Linked DNA regions of Homo sapiens: region 1 is linked to region 2. The links come from fine-mapping of genetic effects on gene expression. A gene starts in region 2. The other region holds a variant in brackets. All regions are shown on one strand. Distances are between the middles of the regions. Region 1 has its middle 26 kb from the start of TMCC1-DT. Region 2 holds the start of TMCC1 (transmembrane and coiled-coil domain family 1).

Region 1 (9,108 bases), 26 kb before region 2:
CTGCACTCCAGCCTGGGTGACAGAGCAAGACTCTGTCTTTAAAAAAAAAAAAAAAAAAGCATTTTTCTAAACTCAAATATCTAATAAATCATAATGAAAATTAGATAATACTAATAAATGATTAAAAGTATGCAAATTAAAAATTGTGAGATGCCACACAAAGCATCGAGAGCAATCTGTAGCTTTATTTACATTAGAAAAGCAGAAAAGATGAAAATGAAGCTAATACCCAGCATATGTTAGAAAATATAATGAGAATAAACTCAAATAACATAAATGGAAGGATAAACAGGTAAATGAATGAAACAGAAAATAAAGATAATGATAGAGAGAAGTAACAGAGCTAACAGTTGGTTCTTTGAGAAAAGTATCATATACAAATCTTCAATGAGACTAAGAAAAAAATCATAAAAACTCATATTTGAAATTAACAGGAAGACATAACTATAGAGGTAGAAAATATTTTAAAAGATAATAGTGCATATTGTGAAAAACTGATGCCAATATATTTGAAAATGTGTACCAAGTAGACAATACCCTAAAAATATAACTTTAAGAAATTGATTTATGAGGAAATGGAAATCCTAAGTAGCTCAATAGCTACTATATAAATTTGATCAATAGTTAAGAAGTGCCTCTGTGCCTCTGTCTCTCTGTGTCTCTGACACACATACACACACGCACACACACAAACACACACACACACACACACACACGGCCCTAATGGTATTATTGACTAAATGCCAAACTCATTCTAATTTTTAAGAAATACTCCCATAAAATTGACATAAGGGGCTACTTTGACATAAGGGGCTGTTTTCCAATAAATTCTATGAGAACACTAGGATCTTAATACCAAAACCAAACAAATATTAGGAATAATAAAAATTATAAGCCAGTCTTACACAGGAACACTGATATAAACAATCCTAAGGAATAGCAAGCATTGACCATGCCTCCAAATTGAAGAATTAATACAAACATAACAATTTAGCTCAAGTGCTAAAACAGACCTACTATTTAAAAGTACTGAGTATACACAGAGCCATGGGAGTTGCTGTTGGAGAAATCTTCATGAAGGAAGGAAGGCTGAAACAGTTTTAAAATCCTAGGTTTCTCTCTTTTTTCTTTTTTTGTCTTGGAGAATAGGTACAAATAGGAGTAAAAACAGGAAGCTTGGGGAAGTAAATAAACCTGCATGGATGGATTGTGGGTGCACTGGGGAGAACAGTAACAAATAAGGTTGGGGGGGAAATTGGAGATAAATGCATCATCACAATCAAGAATGATTTGCTGGCGGGGTGCAGTGGCTCACACCTCTAATCCCAGCACTTTGGGAGGCCCAGGCAGGCGGATCACCTGAGGTCAGGAGTTCGAGACCAGCCTGGCCAACATGGCGAAACCCTGTCTCTACTAAAAATACAAAAATTAGCTGGGCGTGGTGGGGTAAACCTGTAATCGCAGCTACTTGGGAGGCTGAGGCAGGAGAATTGCTTGAACCTGAGAGGTGGAGATTGCAGTGAGCCAAGATCGCACCACTGCACTCTATCCTGGGCGACAGAGCAAGACTCCATCTCAAAAAAAAAAAAAAAAAGAATGATTTGCTGAACACTTAGTATATAACTGGGAACAGTGAAGTTATGGAATTGATTGTCAGCTCAGTAGACGGCACTCAAATCCATTAATTGGGGGACAGACCGATGGGCAGGCAGGTGAACGGATACATTTGACAGGAAACAAGTAGAACTGGCTTTTGAGAAGACACATTTTAAAGTTTCATTTGGCCATAAATTGAATTGCTTTTCAAAAGCTGCACTTAGTGACACTGAAAAATCAGGAAACCAAGCTAGACAGAGTTCCCACGTGAAAACCCGATGTAAAGCATCTGTTACCTACTTGCATGGTATCACTGGAAGTCAGAAGCAGAGCTCTTTTGTGATGTTTAAAACCTGCACGATATCCAGTGCACTATTATTTGTGTATCTATTTGTCTGATGATGGAAATTTGGTTTGTCCCTACTTTCCTTTTTTTTTTTTTCTTGAGATGGAGTCTCGCTCTGTCGCCCTGGCTGGAGTTTAGTGGCGCGATCTCGGCTCACTGCAAGCTCCACCTCTGCGCCAGGCCGGTTTGTCCCTACTTTGTATTCTATTAGAAACATTGCTACAGGCTGAGCGCAGTGGCTCACGCTTGTAATCCCAGCACTTTGGGAGGCCAAGGCGGGTGGATCACTTGAGGTCAGGAGTTCGAGACCAGCCTGGCCAATATGGCGAAACTCCATTTCTACAAAAAATACAAAAAATTAGCCGGGCATTGTGGTGGGTGCATGTAATCCCAGCTACTCGGGAGGCTGAGGCAGGAGAATGGCTTGAACCTGGGAGGCAGAGATTGCAGTGAGCCAAGATCCGGCCATTGCACTCCAGCCTGGGTGACAAGAGTGAAACTCCATCTCAAAAAAAAAAAAAAAAAGAGGAACATTGCTATATAGACAATCTGTGCTTATATTTCCTCTAATTGTGCAAGTATTTTACATAACAAACTACTAGAAATGGAGATTCATGAAATATGAAATTTTTATACTAGATAGATACTGCCCAATTCCCTCTGAGAAATTACGCTAATCCATATGCTCACGAAGAGTTTTGGGGAGTGGGTATTACCCCACAGGCTTACATCCTCACTGATGCTGGAAATTATTCATGAAGTTTGAGTACCCCTTATCTATAAAATGATTGACACCATAAGTGTTTTGAATTTTTTTTTTTTTGGAATATTCGTATTATATATAATTACCAGTTGAGCATCCCAAATCTAAATATACAAAATCCCAAATGCTCAAATAGAGCATTTCCTCTGAGTGTTATGTAGGTGCTCAAAAAGTTTTAAATTTTGGCACATTTTGGATTTCACACTTCTCAGATTTAGGATGCTAACCTGTATTTAACATGTATGCCAATCTGAAAGAACCTGTCTCAGCTCACTGCAGCCTCCACCTCCAGGGCTCAAGTGATCCTCCTGTCTCACAGCCTTCTGAGTAGCCAGGACTACAGGCGTGCACCACCACACCCAGCTAATTTTTTGTATTTTTAGTAGAGGCGGGTTTTGCCATGTTACCCAGGCTGATCTTGGACTCTTGGCTCAAGCAATCCTCCTGCCTCGGCCTCCGAGAGCGCTGGGATTACAGGCGTGAGCCACTGCACCCAGCCGTCTTCTCCTTGTTCTGCCATCAGCAGCCACATCCTGTGACTCCCCAGCCCACTCAGCTTCCCTTGTTTTCCATCACATGCAGAATAAAACCCAAAAGCTGGCCCCCAGCCGCTCTCCTAACCTTGTTTCTTATTGCTCTCCCGCTGGCTCCTCCTAGACCAACCTCACTCCTTGCTGACCTGAAACACACCCTGCACTTGGCTGTGGGACGAAAGTGGCCCTCACTGTTCCCAGAGCGCGCCACGGGGCTAACTCCCACGCTTCCTGCAGGGCTCTGCTCCAACACCACCTCCCCAGGAGGACTCATCCAGCACCCGTATGAAGCACCCATTCCGTGAAACACGCTAAATATTTTTATTTTATTATTATTTTTTTTGAGACAGGGTCTCACTCTGTTGTCCAGGCTGGAATGCAGTGGCACTATCTCAGCTCACTGAAACCACCACCTCATGGGTTGAAGCCATTCTCCTGCCTCAGCCTCCCGAGTAGCTGGGACTACAGGCGCATGCTGCTACGCCCAGCTAATTATTTGTATTTTAGTAGAGACGAGGTTTCACCATGTTGCCCAGGCTGGTCTCGAACTCCTGAGCTTAGGCAATCCACCCGTCTCAGCCTCCCAAAATGCTAGGATTACAGATGTGAGCCACCACGCCTGGCTGAAACACACTAAATATTTTCAATCATTTCTGTTTTTAATTTTTCTGGCAGTTATTCAAAACTCTAAATGTGAGTAAGCCCCCTACTTCTAGATTTGTAATTTCATAAAAGTTGAGCAATTAGCTCACTTGTACCATGCCCTGGCTACACTCATTGTAACTGTTTCTCATCTCCTGTAGCAAACTTCATTTAGAGGTCACCTTTATAACTCTGTACCTGTCTTCTCAGCTCTATTTCGGGAGCTATCACGGGGAAATGACATCTGCGTACCACTCCTAAGTCCCATAGCCTCTGACAGCTGTATCCGACAAGATCGGGTGCGTTCAGGCTGGTATGAGCGAAGACCCCGCTGATAACTTTACATGGCCTTTTCCCACCTATTGTCCAAATTCTGTCAACTCTAGCTTGTTTAAATGGTTTTATTTTTATATTTTCTGTAAATACAATTAAGCTTTTCATGCTTTGTGTGCTGATTCAGAAAAGTAAAATAAATAAGAAAAGTAAAATAAATAACTAGCATTTAGGTTAATATGATTACGTAACTTTCCCCCTATGGATCCAAGACATAAAACTGGACACAATGACTCCAT[A/T]CCAGCCCTGCATCAAACTGTTTCCTGTGAAAATGGGTTTTTAGATTTATCATCCATTATATGTTTAAAGTCATGCCTCATCTTAATTGGTCTCATGTTTGGTCTGACTTTCTAGCACAGATCTATTGTACTAGAATATGTAATTGGCTTACTTACATTTTTGACATAACAAGCATATGGATTCCCCCTCATTACTAAGAGTCCTAATTGTAGCCTCTTAGCTTAATTATAACCTGTTTAATACTAAATTCACTTTCTCTGTGAAATCTCTCTTCGTGGCGCTCCCCTTGAATTCTTGTTCTAAGAGAGAGGGAGAGAGAGAAAGAGAAGGAGAGAGAGAGAGAGAGAGAGAAGGAAGGAAGGAGAGAAGGGAGGGAGGGAGGAAGAAAGGAAAGAAAGAAGGAAAGAGAAAGATCAGCTTCTTTTCTGCCTTTCCTCCTTACCCCCTTTCCCTTTTCCTTACCTTCCTTTCCTTCTTTTTCCTTTTCCTTTCTTTTATTTTCTTTCTCTCTCTCTGTTTCTTTCCCTCCCTCCCTCCCACCCTCCGTCCCTCCCTCCTTCCCTCCTTTCCCTCCCTCCCTCTCTCTCTTTCTCTCTTTCTTTCTTTCTTTCTTTTTTTCTTTCTTCTTTCTTCAGTATTCACACCTGGGGGACCCTTAACCCCAAAGTGGATTTTATGGACAACAGCACACTGGGGAGACAAGGAGCCCCACAGCACTCCCACCCTCTCCCCAGGTCACTTCTTGCTTCCTGGTCCTGCTCTTTATTGGGGAAGGAGAATCGTATTTGACCAGTGGAACTCCAGGACAGTCCCTGGCCACCATCAGTAGTGGGCAGGGTCACAGCATGTTCTAGGCTGTGCACACTGAGCCACCGGCCATGCACAAGGGCAGGGCCTTCTGGACCTCCCTCAAACTTCTTAATAACACATGAGGAAGCTCCCTGATGGGAGCCACTCTGACCCCATGCCACTCTAACCCCAGCACAGTCTGGTTCCCAGGACTTCAGGATCCTCCTGGAGACCTCTCAGCATGATTAACACAGTCAGACGAGACCTGAAGGGGCCGCTGGTCCTTCTGAAAATGCTCACTGGGCAGTGTGAGTGTGGGGAGGCCATGCACAATGTGTGGGACTCTGCCTTGCACCTGCTCAGAGCCTCAGCCCTTCAGAGCCACTGGTAATGATTTTCTGTGGGTGGGGTCATCCTGATACTTCTCTGAGGTCTCTTTTCCTTTCAGTTTTTCTGAGTAACTGAGAGGATCACATGACTGCATACTGCCTAAACTAGGGTGTGCACAGCCCCCATTCTGTGCAGGGAGGGCGCAAAGCAGCAGATTGCCTGTGACTCATCTGCCACCTTTCCAATGCTACTACAAAATTTGCAAGAAACGGTAGTGTTATCAGGAATCACCTTTATTTAAAAAGATAAAGCAGGATTGCTGGGCACACGGAAGCGTGAGCATATCGCCCGGCTTCTCTCCACAGCTGTCGCCCGGCTTCTCTCCACAGCTGTTGGCGTCCACTGTCAGGTTTCCATGTTCTTGGACCTCAGGGCCTTCATCCTCTCCAATCTAAATGCAGAGAGACATTTGATACGGACTCTCTCAGTTGTTTTGCAAAATGCAACACACTCTCATTGACTCTGGTCACCCTGCTGTGCGCTAGATGTCAAAACCTCTTCCTCCTGTCCGGACTTTGGTCCTTTAACCGACAACCCTGATGGTCTGCAGGTCAGTGCTGGGTGGGGGATGAAGCAAGGCTTTCTGGAGGCCAGTGTGCTGAGCCCTGCAGTGTGAGGAGAGGTCGCCTAAGTAAGTAGGGACAAGGGCAGGAGGGTAGCCTCTGCAAAAGCTCAGGGATGACCGAGGGTGTCTTGCTGGAGTGATGTGCTAGTCTGAAGGTAGGACTGGGGCCAGGTTGGGAGAGCTCGAGTCCCAGGACAGAAGCTGAGCCTGTATTCTGAGGGCCGTGGGCACTGTGGAATAGTTCTGAGCCCCCTTGCTGGGCCACAGCCTTCAAACCCTGACTCTGCTCCTGACGTGGGAGTGGGCTCAACTGAACTTTACCACCACACCAGCCTCACTGCCTCCAGTCTCCCCCACCCACACCCCTCCATTCAGGCTCCCAAAGGGATCCAAGGGAAAGCCACCTCTGGGCTCCACCACCCAGCTGGTGGCCCTGAGAGCTTCAGAGGGAAGCCCTTCTCCTTGTCCACCAGGGCTCACCTGGGCAGCCCCACAGCCCTGCCTTTCAGACCACCCCATGTGCCCAGGTGGGTCACGTGATTCTTGAAAACAAAATGCTTGTTCCTTGGTGCCACAAGGAAAAATTAGCATTCAGACAAAAAGTTTTCTCAGCAAGGCAATTTTACTTTCTGCAGAAAGGATGCTGCCCATCAGCAATTTTGCCACAAGAGCACGATGAATAAAGAAAGGCAGGAATATTTATCCCTTACACACTGGGTCCTTACTGCTGTGTCCTCTCTTCGTTGCTTGGAGACGGACCTCACAATCTAAGCTAAACTCAATTGGCTAACAACTTAAAACTTTCCTAAATAGGTAAAGGCAATGGAGAACAAAAGGAAAAGAGGAAGTTGCTTGCAAAAGGTCTTAGAAAAGTAATAACATTTCCAAATAAGGAAGGAAGAGGAAGTTAGTCTTTAAAAGAAACTATTACTTTTAACATTTATTATTTATTCTTTAACAAGAAGGGAAACTTTGAAGAGGAACTTTTTATTTTCCACACCGTCATGTTTCCTACACACCGTCCCCACTGCCTAGAGTTCCCCCCTTACTCTCCTGCACTGAGTGACTTCCTGTCCCTTCAGTCCTAGCTGAGATATCCGGTACTCTGGGGAGCATCCCTGAGCCCTGGACACAGAGGAGCCCCTTCTGCCCTGGATCCCAGAACCACTTGTGCTTTCCTCCTATCACAGTGCAGAAACTCCCACCACACACACACACAAACACAAACAGACACACACACACACACACACACACACACACACACAGACACCGGCACACATATTCACACACACTTGCCACCATTTGGGGACATTGATTACTGCCTGCTGGACCACCCCTCTCCCACCCCAGCCTCTCAGGGAGCCCCAGGCAGAGGTGCTGCTATTAATAGTAGGGGCCCTGTAGGTGCATTGGAGGTAGGGAAGGGAAGGGCTCCCCAGGAATACCCCTGCCTGGATGACAGCCACCCCATGGGGGGCACGGCCACCAGGAAACTTAGGTCTTGAATAAGCGGAGGCAGCAGGTACAGGCTGGAAGGATAAGGTGGGGCCAGATTCCCAGGGTCCCTAAATGCCAGGATGAGGTGCTTCTATTGTCTCCTGGGGTGCAAGCTTTGGAAGAGGCGGGGCCCATGGGGGCAGCACTGGGGAGGCCGGCCTGGAGGGACATGGCCACTGAAGGGGTGCACCTGTCCCTGTCCCTGATGGCTCAGCCCTCACTGGCACCAGGAATCCCTTGGTGGGGAATGGGGGGTGTCATGGCCTCCTGCCTGGTGCCTGAATACCCCGACATGTTCCACCCAGGATCCTGCACTTCTTCCTTCTTTTGTTTTTTTTTTTGTTGTTGTTGTTGTTTTCAAGACAGAGTCTCACTCTGTCATGCAGGCTGGAGTGCAATGGTGTGATCTTGGCTCACTGCAACTTCCACTTCCTGGGGCCAAGCTATTCTCCTGCCTCAGACTCCTGAGTAGCTGGAATTACAGGCGTGCACCACCACGCCCAGCTCATTTTTTGTATTTTTAGTAGAGATGGGGTTTCACCATGTTGGCCAGGCTGGTCTCGAACTTTTGACTTCAAGTCATCTGCCTGCCTCAGCCTCCCAAAGTGCTGGGATTACAGGCGTGAGCCACCGCACCCGGCCTGTACTTCCTCCCTCTGCCCTAATGTCCCCCAATGATTGCTGAGTCACTCAGGCTTCCTCCCCTTGAAGTCTCTGCTCCCCTCAAGCTGCTCCCCCTTGCAGACTCCCCCCTTGTTTTTGTCACCCACACTGCACACCTTCTTGTCATTGACTCACCCTTGCTTTCCTTTTTTTTTTTTTTTTTTTTTTGTGAGACAGGATCTTGCTCTGTCACCCAGGCTGGAATGCAGTGGCACGATCATAGCTAACTGCAGCTTCAACCTCCCAGGCTCCAGTGATTCTCCCACCTCAGCCTCCTGAGAAGCTGGGACTACAGGCTCATGCCACCACACCTGGCTAATGTTTTGTATTTTTTATAGAGACAGGGTTTTGCCATGTTGCCCAGGCTGGTCTTAAACCCGTGGGCTCAAGTGATCCTCCCGTCTTGGCCTCCCAAAGTGCTGGGATTCCAGGCGGGAACCACCTACTGACTGTCTTCACATAGGCCATCACCAAATTAACTTCCTCTGGGGCAGGACAGGTGTGAAGTCGGTGAGGGGAAGCAGCAGGGTGTGAGGAACACAGATGGAAGTGCTGTGCTAAACGGACCTGGCCCCTAGGTGCAGTGTCGGGGAGTAACAGGGCATGGTGGAGACTGTGGCAAACGAGTGCACGGGCCAGGTCTAAGGGCAGCCACCATGCACCTCTAGCTGATTTCTGTTGTTGTTTTTAACACACACGTGTGCGCGTGTGTGCGCTCTGTCCCAGGTTTGAGCAACCACTGATCTACTTT
Region 2 (9,108 bases):
TCTTGAATTTCATGAATTCTTATATGATTACATTTAAAGGCACTAGTGACTCTATTTCCAGTGGTGAAGAGGGCACTGGGAGTCCATGGCATGATAAAGCATCGAATACGCCTAATGAAACACCTATAGAAAGCAAGGTTATGCGTGACTGTGTATTTGTTACCTTAGAATATTTTAGTTAAACCAAGGAACAGAATGGCATTGGCCATAACTGCACTGAAGAAAGCAGGCAAAGAAAAGGATGAGCTCAGGGTTTCAGATTCCCACCTTTCAGTGTTTAAAGCTTTAAGCTATGCATAGATGACCTGGAAGCTTCCATATCTGTCCTGAAAGGAACCCTTAGGGCCACAATTTCTGAAAACCAACCCAGAGTCTCATTCTGCAAGGGGCTGATACAGATGCTGTTTAGAGCCTTTGGCAGGCCACTGTAGGTGAATCACGCTGCAGACCCTTAAGATTTTGGAGCAAAGCCCTGCAGAAGAGTACTGTCCTCTTGAGAAACAACGTTTGGCTTGCTGGGCCTAAGCAGAGACTGAACAGTTAACCGTGGGTCATCAAGTTACCATGTGACCTGAGCTGCTCATCATGAACTAAGTGTTATCTGATCCACCAAGCTATAAAGTTGTGCACTCACAGCAACACTCCATTATCAAATTGAAGTGGTATATATGAGATTGGGCTCAAATGGGCCCTGAAGGCATAGGTAAGTTGCACGAGGAAGTGGCCCAAATATCCATGGCCCCAACTCCTGCTACATTACCTTCTCTCTCCCAGCCTGCACCTATGGCGCCATGGGGCATTCCTTATGACCAGTTGACTGAAGAAGGGAAAACTCAGTTGTGGTTCATAGCCCAGGTTTATGATGGTTCTGCACAATATGCAGGCACCAGTGAAAATAAAACTAGTGTCCCTTTCTGGGACATCCCTGAAGAATAATGGTGAAAAAAAAATCCCCCAGTTGGCAGAACTTTGAAGAGTGTACTTGGTTGTTCATTTTTCCTGAAAGTAGAAACGTCCAGAGGCTCTTCTGACCAAGAGGTCTTAGTTCCAAAAGAAGGAATGCTTCCACCAGGAGACCCAACAACATTTCCATTGAATTGGGAGTTGAGGTGGTCACCTGGCCACCTTGGGTCTTTCATGCCTCTGAATCAACAGGTAAAGTGGGAAGTTCCTCTACTGGCTGAGGTGACTAATCCTGATTACTAAGCAGGAAATTCGGTTGCTACTACAAGATGGAGACGTATTAATGATAGGTAACTTTATATTGCAGTATTAAGTTATAAGACATCAAAGGTGGAGAAGAAACATCACTCAAGGACTTTGCATCCCCTTGGGAAAAGTGTTGTTATGTTTTCAATAGTATGCAGGATAGTTATATCATGTTAAGTGAAAGTATGACTTTGTTATTGTCTTTAAATTTTTTTTTTTTTTGAGACATAGTCTCACTCTGTCACCCAGGCTTGAATGCAATGGCATGATCTTGGCTCACTGCAACCGCCGCCTCCCAAGTTCAAGCGATTCTCCTGCCTCAGCCTCCTGAGTAGCTGGGATTAGAGGCATACGCTGCCACATCCGGCTAATTTTTGTATTTTTAGTAGAGATGGGGTTTCACCATGTTGGCCAAGCTGGTCTCAAACTCCTGACCTCATGATCTGCCCACATTGGCCTCCCAAAGTGCTGGGATTACAGGCGTGAGCCACTGCGCCCAGCCAAAGACTTTTTTTTTTTAAGAGATATGGTCTTGCTGTGGTACCCAGGCCGGAGTACAGTGGTGCGATCATAGGTCACTGCAACCTTGAACTCCTGGGCTCAAGGGATCCTCCTGCCTCAGGCTCCCCAGTAGCTAGGACTACAGGTGTACACTCCCACACTGGCTAATTAAAAAAAATTTTTTTTGTAGAAATGGGGTCTCATTAGGTTGCCCAGGCTGGTCTTGAACTCCTGGGCTGAAGCGATCCTCTTGCCTTGGCCTCCCAAAGTGCTGGGATTACAGGGTCCCTGGTGTGTTATTGTCAGCCTTTAGAGATCAAGTATGGTTAAGGAGATGTGTAGGAGTGTGATTGCTGGGTCATCGGTCTTAATTTTAGCTATCCTAATGAGAGTGTTGTGGTTTTAAATGGAAAAATCCCTAGTTGACTAAAGATGTTGGTAATCTCTTCATTGCTTATAGGCCATTTTTGTATCTTGTGAACTATCTACAAGATATAAAAAAAGCCTTTGCCCATTGGTTTATTGGGCTGGCTTATTACTCATTTATAACAGTTCTTTATGTATTCTGGATACAAGACTTTTGTCTAATGCTTTCTATTGCAAACTCTCCACCTGTGGCTTGCCTTTTCATTTTCTTAATGTTGTCTCTCAAAGAGTACCAGTTTTTAATTTTGATAGAGTTCAACTTATCAATTGCTTTCTTTTTTTTTTTTTTTTTTTTGAGACAGGGTCTCACCCTGTCACTCAGGCTGGAGTGCAGTGGCGCCATCTCAGCTCACTGCAACCTCCGCCTCCCAGGTTCAAGTGATCCTCCTTCCTCAGCCCCACAAGTTAGCTGAGACTGCAGGTACGTGCCAACAAGCCCAGCTAACTTTTGTATTTTTTGTAGAGATAGCATTTTGCCATGTTGCCCAGGCTGGTCTTGAACTCCTGAGCTCAAGTGATCTGCCTGCCTTGGCCTCCCAAAGTGCTGGGATTACAGGTGTGAGCCAGGCCATGAATCACTTTTTATGGTTCATATTTTTTGTGTCCTAAGAAGTCTTTGCCTATCCCAAGGTCACAAATACTTTTTCTATGTTTTCTTCTAAAATTTTCTTTTATAGGTTTAGCTTTTAAATTTAGGTTTATCATCCATTTTGAGTTACCTCAGGTGGCTCCTTCAGTGCTTCTGAAATCTATAAATGCATCCTCCACCAACCTCAAATCTAAGTAAACCTTGCCACCTCCTTCTCCTTCACTCCTCATTCAATTTATTGCCAAGTCCTGTCCATTTTACCACTACATTAGCACTCTTCTCTGTCACTACCCTCCTACTTTGCCTTGACTATGTGGCCAGTGGCCTCCTAACTGGCTTCCCGGCCCCAGCTTTGAGACTCCCATCAGACCACTCTTCACGTTGCTATCTAAGTAACTTAAAAACAGACATAATGGGCTGGGGGCAAGGTGGCTCACACCTGTAATCCCAGCACTTTGGGAGGCCGAGGTGGGTGGATCATGAAGTCAGGAGATTCAGACCATCCTGGCCAACATGGTGAAACCCCGTTTCTACTAAAAATACTAAAAAAATTAGCTGGGTGCAGTGGCGTGCACCTGTAGTCCCAGGTACTAGGGAGGCTGAGGCAGGAAAATCACTTGAACCCGGGAGGCAGAGATTGCAGGGAGCCGAGATCGCGCCACTGCACTCCAGTCTGCCTCTCAAAAACAAAAAACAGACATAATGATCAAGTTATTTCCCCTGCAACCCTGCTGAAAAAAACCTGAATAGCTTCTACCAAGCACTCAGATTAAAGTCCCAAATCCGGCCGGGTGTGGTGGCTCATGCCTGCAATCCCAGCACTTTGGGAGGCCGAGGCGGGCAGATCACAAGGTCAGGAGTTCCAGACCAGCCTGGCCAAGATGGCGAAACCCCATCTCTACTAAAAATACAAAAATTAGCCAGGTGCGCTGGCGTGCGCTGGTAGTCCAGCTACTCCGGAGGCTGAGACAGGAGAATCGCTTGAACCCAGGAGGCGGAGGTTGCAGTGAGCTGAGATCGAGCCATTGCACTCCAGCCTGGGTGACCTGGGTGACAGAGTGAGACTCTGTCTCAATAAATAAATAAATAAATAGGTCCCCAATCCTCACCTGTTCTCGCCTACCTCTTCCCACACTCGCAGTCTACTCCACATTCAATATTCTTTAGCGCTCCCCATTCTGGCCATGCCAAGACCTCACCCCTTGGAGCAACTAACTCCTCCCAACTCAATTCCTCAGATTCTACCCTCTTCATCCTCAACTAAATCAATTCCCCCATAAAGATTCTCTTAGTACCATATACCTCTCAGAAGATTTTTACTAATTGAAAACTTAATTTTGTCTGATTCTCCCATGAATGTTTTCCTTCTCCACCAGATCTCAAACTTCATGAGACCAGGGACTCCGTTGACCCCATATGGTACTCCCAGCTCCTTGAACACGGAAGAAGCCTCATTACATAAGTAATAAAAATAAAATAAATTAGGAAAATGGGAATTATAAAGGGATGGGCTGGTGGCTGCTTACAATCCCTTCAGTGGTAATACCTGGTGCAAAGTAATGAGTCTCTGCCCTTTTCCAAGCAGCCTGCTAGGTGGAATGAAGGAAGGCCTTGCGACTCAAATAGGGAGAACAAACGTGTGATCCAGAGCGGCGGGCAGAAATCCGACGAAACCCCATATTACTCAGGGGCGTTGCTCCTAGGGCGAGGGTGGCTCGGTTCCTAGAGCTTTTTGAGAGGAGGAGCTTACCTGGAGCAACTCAGCACTACCTGCAGCGGCGCAGCTCAACCAGCCCAGAGACCGCGTGGGAAGGCGGGCTAGGGGAGGGGCCACGCCTTCCAGGGCCCATCCCCGCCCCTGCGGCGTGCGCGCGCCCGTCCGCCCGCTCCCTTGCGCGTGCGCCGCCGGCCGGGGGCGGAGGTTGTGGGCGGTGGCGGCTGTGGCGGGGGCGCGCGCGCGCTCGCTCTCTCGCGCCGGTTCGCCCTCCCGCGCCGGGGCTGAGGCGGCGGCGGCGGTGGCGGTGACTGAGGCGGCGGCGGCTGAGGCGGCGCGGGGGGAGGGTCGGGAGGGGGGGGTGGTTGTGGGGGATGGACCGGGTGCGGCGGCCGCAGTGGAAGGAGCAGGCGCTTGAGCTCGAGCGACGGCGCTGGCGGAGACGCCGGCTGCTCCTCCCCTCCCCGCCGGTGAGTGAGCGCCCCCGCCCCGGACGCTGGCGGCGGTCGCGGCCCCCTCACGGCCCTCCGCGGTGGGTGGGGACAGTCGTGAGGGAGCGTGGCCTGGCGGCGCAGCGGACGCGGGCCTGGCCTCCCGCTCGCGGCCTGTCGGGGCTGGGACCTGCCGTCGCCCCCGTTCGAGGTTGAAGCCCCGGGCCTAGGACTCGACCCCCAGCATCCCACGGGGCCTCTTTCCTTTCCCGGCTCATTCCGCTGTCATTTTGACCTGGGGTTCCCCTCCAGCCCCTCGCCTCGTTCCCTTCCCAGCATCCCAGGGCCGAGGTGAGGGAGGGGCGTGTGAGAAGTCGGGCCGAGGCCCGAGGGACTGTTTAGGAGCCGGTTCCCGTCGGAATCTGGGGTTTTAGGAGCCCTCGATCGCCATGGCGTCCCAGAAGTTAGCCACCAGGACTCAGCCATTTCCACCTGAAACCAGTTTTGCACCTATTGTTTTGATTTTGAACTGTCTTTCGAGGGGAGGAGGGAGCCCGGCGTACTGGGGAGAATATGTAGTGGGAGGTGGGATGTGAGGAGGAGCTGGCTGGGCTTGGTCTCGGCCTCAGGATGCCCCCTGTTAACCCCTGTAGGATAGGGGAAAGAGGTGCAGCGAGTTGCACCTTCCCTAAAGGGCCAGAGATTCGTTTATAGCTTGCGAATCTCTGCTTTTTCAGCCTCGGTAAAGGGGTATCATTTGTGGTTGGTTTGGTTCGTCCCTTAACAACATTCTTGGTGAGGAATCCCCAGGTGAATCTGCCACGGAGTGAAGCAGCCCACTTGAGCTGTTGGCTACCCCCGGCCCCCGCAACGCCCGTTGGCTTTTGTGACACGTTACACGTTAGTGTTGGTAGAGCCTAGCCGTCAGAGGTACCTGTACCATAAGCATCTCTACGAAAGGTGTGAATTCCTAAATTAGCTTATTCTGTTCTTAAAAAAAAAAAATCCAGGGCATAAATATCAGATAGCTGCTTTAAAATAAAACAAAACTTTGATTTGTTCCAGGAGGTAGATACATTTTTTTCTCTGTATATTAGGAGATTGAAACTCAAATTGTGAGTAGGTGGTAGTTTTACTAGTGTCATGTGACAAAACGATGCTTATAGATGGGATTTTAACTTAATAACCCTGTCCTCTACCAACAGAGTTGGCTTGTATTTTTTTGCAATCACCCACTCTCTGGCTAGTGTAGAAAGATTAAAAAGCTGCTTCTGGTCTGTGGGTGGTAACCTTTTAATTTCTGAAGAGTTTTGAGCTGCTTATAGATTGCTGATCAGCAGCATAGGAAAATTTTAGACGTTAAAAATTCATTAGCATGTGATGTAGAACTGTTATAATTATGAGCATTGATTAAGATTTGGTATGGTGTAGGTGCTGTGTACTGTGTATAAGAATGAGATTTCTCAGAGCATTTGCATCTTAAGATAAACAGAAGCACAGACCGCTGACAGTGTTGGGACACCTTGCAGAAGGACTCTTTTATGAGCACAAAAGACCTGTAGTCTACAATTTGATGAAGAACCCCAGTGCCCTAGACTAGTTGGTGACCAACCACCATTACTTTAAACTGGGCCTTCTTGATAGTAGAATATTTCCCCTTTTCTGCAAGACTGCTTATGCCTCTCATAAATGTGCAGAACATATAATGGCTCAGGGCTTAGGTTTAAGCTCCTCAGAGTGGCATTTATGGATCATTCATTAATTCATCAAATGTTTATTGAGCCCTTACTTTGTTCCAGGATGTTTTCTAAGTACTGGGCTACATTGTTGGGACAAAACAGACAAGGCCTCTTCCCTAATTAAGCTTTATTCTGTATGTATGGGAATGAGGAATATACAACAAACAAGCAAATAGGATCATTTCAGATAATGATATAAATCAGTGGTTAGTAAGCTTTTTTTGGTAAAGGACCAGGAAGTACAGTACATACCAGGGTTTTTGGGCCATATGATCTCTTTTGCAACTACTCAATTCTGTTTTAGTACAAAAGCAGCCACAGACAGTACGTGAACAAATATGTTTATATTCCAGTTAAACTTGGGACACTGAAATTTGAATTTCATAAAATTTTCACATGTCACAGAATATTAATGAGTTTTTAAAAATATTTTCCCCTAGCCATTTAAAAATGTAAAACCATTCTTAGCCATATAAAACGGGGCAAGGTGGATTTGGCCTATAGATTATAGTCTGGCCTTTTATAGAAAATGTTTGCTGACCCCTAATATGAATTATGAAGAAAATAAAACAAGCTGATGTGACAAGTGAATGACTGAAAGGTGGGTGGAGGGTTACTTAGTGAGAGGAGGCCTCATTAAGGAGAAGGTATTTGAGTTGTGACCTGAAAAATGGTAGCGCTTTCCTGGTAAATGAAACAGTGAGTGCAAAGGTCTGCAGGTGCAGATGAGCTGCTCTTGTTTTCCAGTGTTGAACTTCCCCACATAACATGTCATTCTTACATTTTATGTAAATACATTTTATGTCTTTGTTAGAATGTTGTTCTTCATGTAATAGGATGGTACCTTTCCGTTTCCTCTTCCTGATCCTGCCTTACAGTACCCATGGAGTAAGACTGCAGTGGAGTTGCACCTCATCCCAGGGTTAGGTCCTCAAGTTAGTGCATGAGGCAAAAATCATGTAAGATGAAAACTCTTCTGGAAAATTCCATAAATTGCTCAAAAAGTATGGTCTGCATGTTTTTGTATGTATAGTTGTATAAAATTCTTACGAATATGAAAGGCTGAGAGCCACAGAGCTTGACTGAGGGAAAGAGCAAGAGGAAATAAATTGTTATATAGGTATCTGGGCCTTCAGACTGTTTGGCTTTTTAAAACTGCTCTGGAGTCCCTATCAGAGAGTGGGGGATGGTATAGAATTTTGACATGTTCCTGTTTCCATGCAGGGTTTAATTCTATTTTTATGTTAAGCCTCTATTACATTAATACATGCTCATAGATGTGTTGCGAATATTAAACAAGATAATGTATTTGAAAGAGCCCGGCACTTAAGATAGTCAGTAAACATTTGCAGAATTAGAATCTGATTTTTACTTCTTTGGGCTCACATACATACTGTCCTTTGAAAAGTTGTAGAGAACTTAGCCACCTGCTTCCTGTCTATCCATATTGGCATTTCCTGTTGTGGCTCCACTGAACAGCTGTCACTCTCTTTGTCCTTGAGCATTGGTCACATTTTGCCAGAGGTTGGCTTGTAAGTTAAATGGGTATAGGTGTAACTCTGTTAGTTCTGCCACATGACCCTTAAAGTGTTTGAGCACTGCTATTATGTCTCCTATTTAAGTCTTCACTTTTCAGAGCTGAATGTTTTTATTTTTCTTTTTTTTAAAGATATTATGGAGAGAGATGGGGTCTCATATGTTGCCTAGGCAAACTCCTGGCCTCAAGTGATCCCCCTTGCCTTGGCCTCCAAAAGTGCTGGGTTTATAAGCATGAGCCACCATGCCCCAGCCATTTTAATTTCTGTTAGCTTTTTCTTATTTCTTCACCCTTCTGGTTGTTGTGAGCTTAGTTTATTCTTTTTTTTTTTTTTTAACTTTGCTACTCTGAAGTATATTTTAAGGTACAAATTCAAGTTTTATCTCCTTGACCAAATCTTTCCTGATAATTCTAGACCTTCTTTATATTCTTAATATAGTTTTATCTTTACTCTTCAATTTAATTTTTTCTTATTTTTGTATTTTATACTAGTTTCATGAGCATTTGTCTTCACTCTGCGACAACAAGCTTCTTGAAGGCAAAGACCATATTTTAAGTATCTTTTGTGTCCTAGATGCACTGAGTAAAATTCCAGGGATGCCGTTGATCATAAATTTGTTATAATTTTTAAAAATAGACTTTAAAATTTAGATTTACAGAAACATTGCAAAGATACTGCAGAGTTCCTGCCTATCCTACACTGTTTCCCATATTATTAACGTCTTACATCCCTGTGATCATTTGTCTGTATTAATAAACCAGTATTGATACATTATCACAGAGACCATACTTTATCAGGTTTCCACAGGTTTTTTCCTTAATGTTCTTTCACTATCCCAGGATCCCATCCACAATACCACATTACATTTAGTAATTATGTCTCCTTAGCTCCTCTTGGTTGTGACAATTTCTCAGACTTTCCCTGTATTTAGTGACCTTGGCAGTTTTGAACATTACTGGTC

What was found.
Region 1: its variant is fine-mapped to the expression of TMCC1 in whole blood (TOPMed, PIP above 0.99).

The regions. Positions count from the first base shown.
Region 1 is chr3:129,915,315-129,924,422 of GRCh38, reverse strand. No RefSeq gene overlaps it. Among named protein-coding and RNA genes, the nearest start is that of TMCC1-DT, 26 kb to the right of the region's middle. The variant A/T (reference allele first, on the strand shown) is at 4,453.
Region 2 is chr3:129,889,295-129,898,402 of GRCh38, reverse strand. TMCC1 (transmembrane and coiled-coil domain family 1) reads left to right here and starts at 4,692. Exons shown (of 7, transcript NM_001017395.5): 1 at 4,692-4,909. TMCC1-DT (TMCC1 divergent transcript) reads right to left here and starts at 4,532. Exons shown (of 3, transcript NR_037893.1): 1 at 4,476-4,532. RefSeq lists a silencer at 4,435-5,164 and enhancers at 4,526-5,317, 5,318-6,110.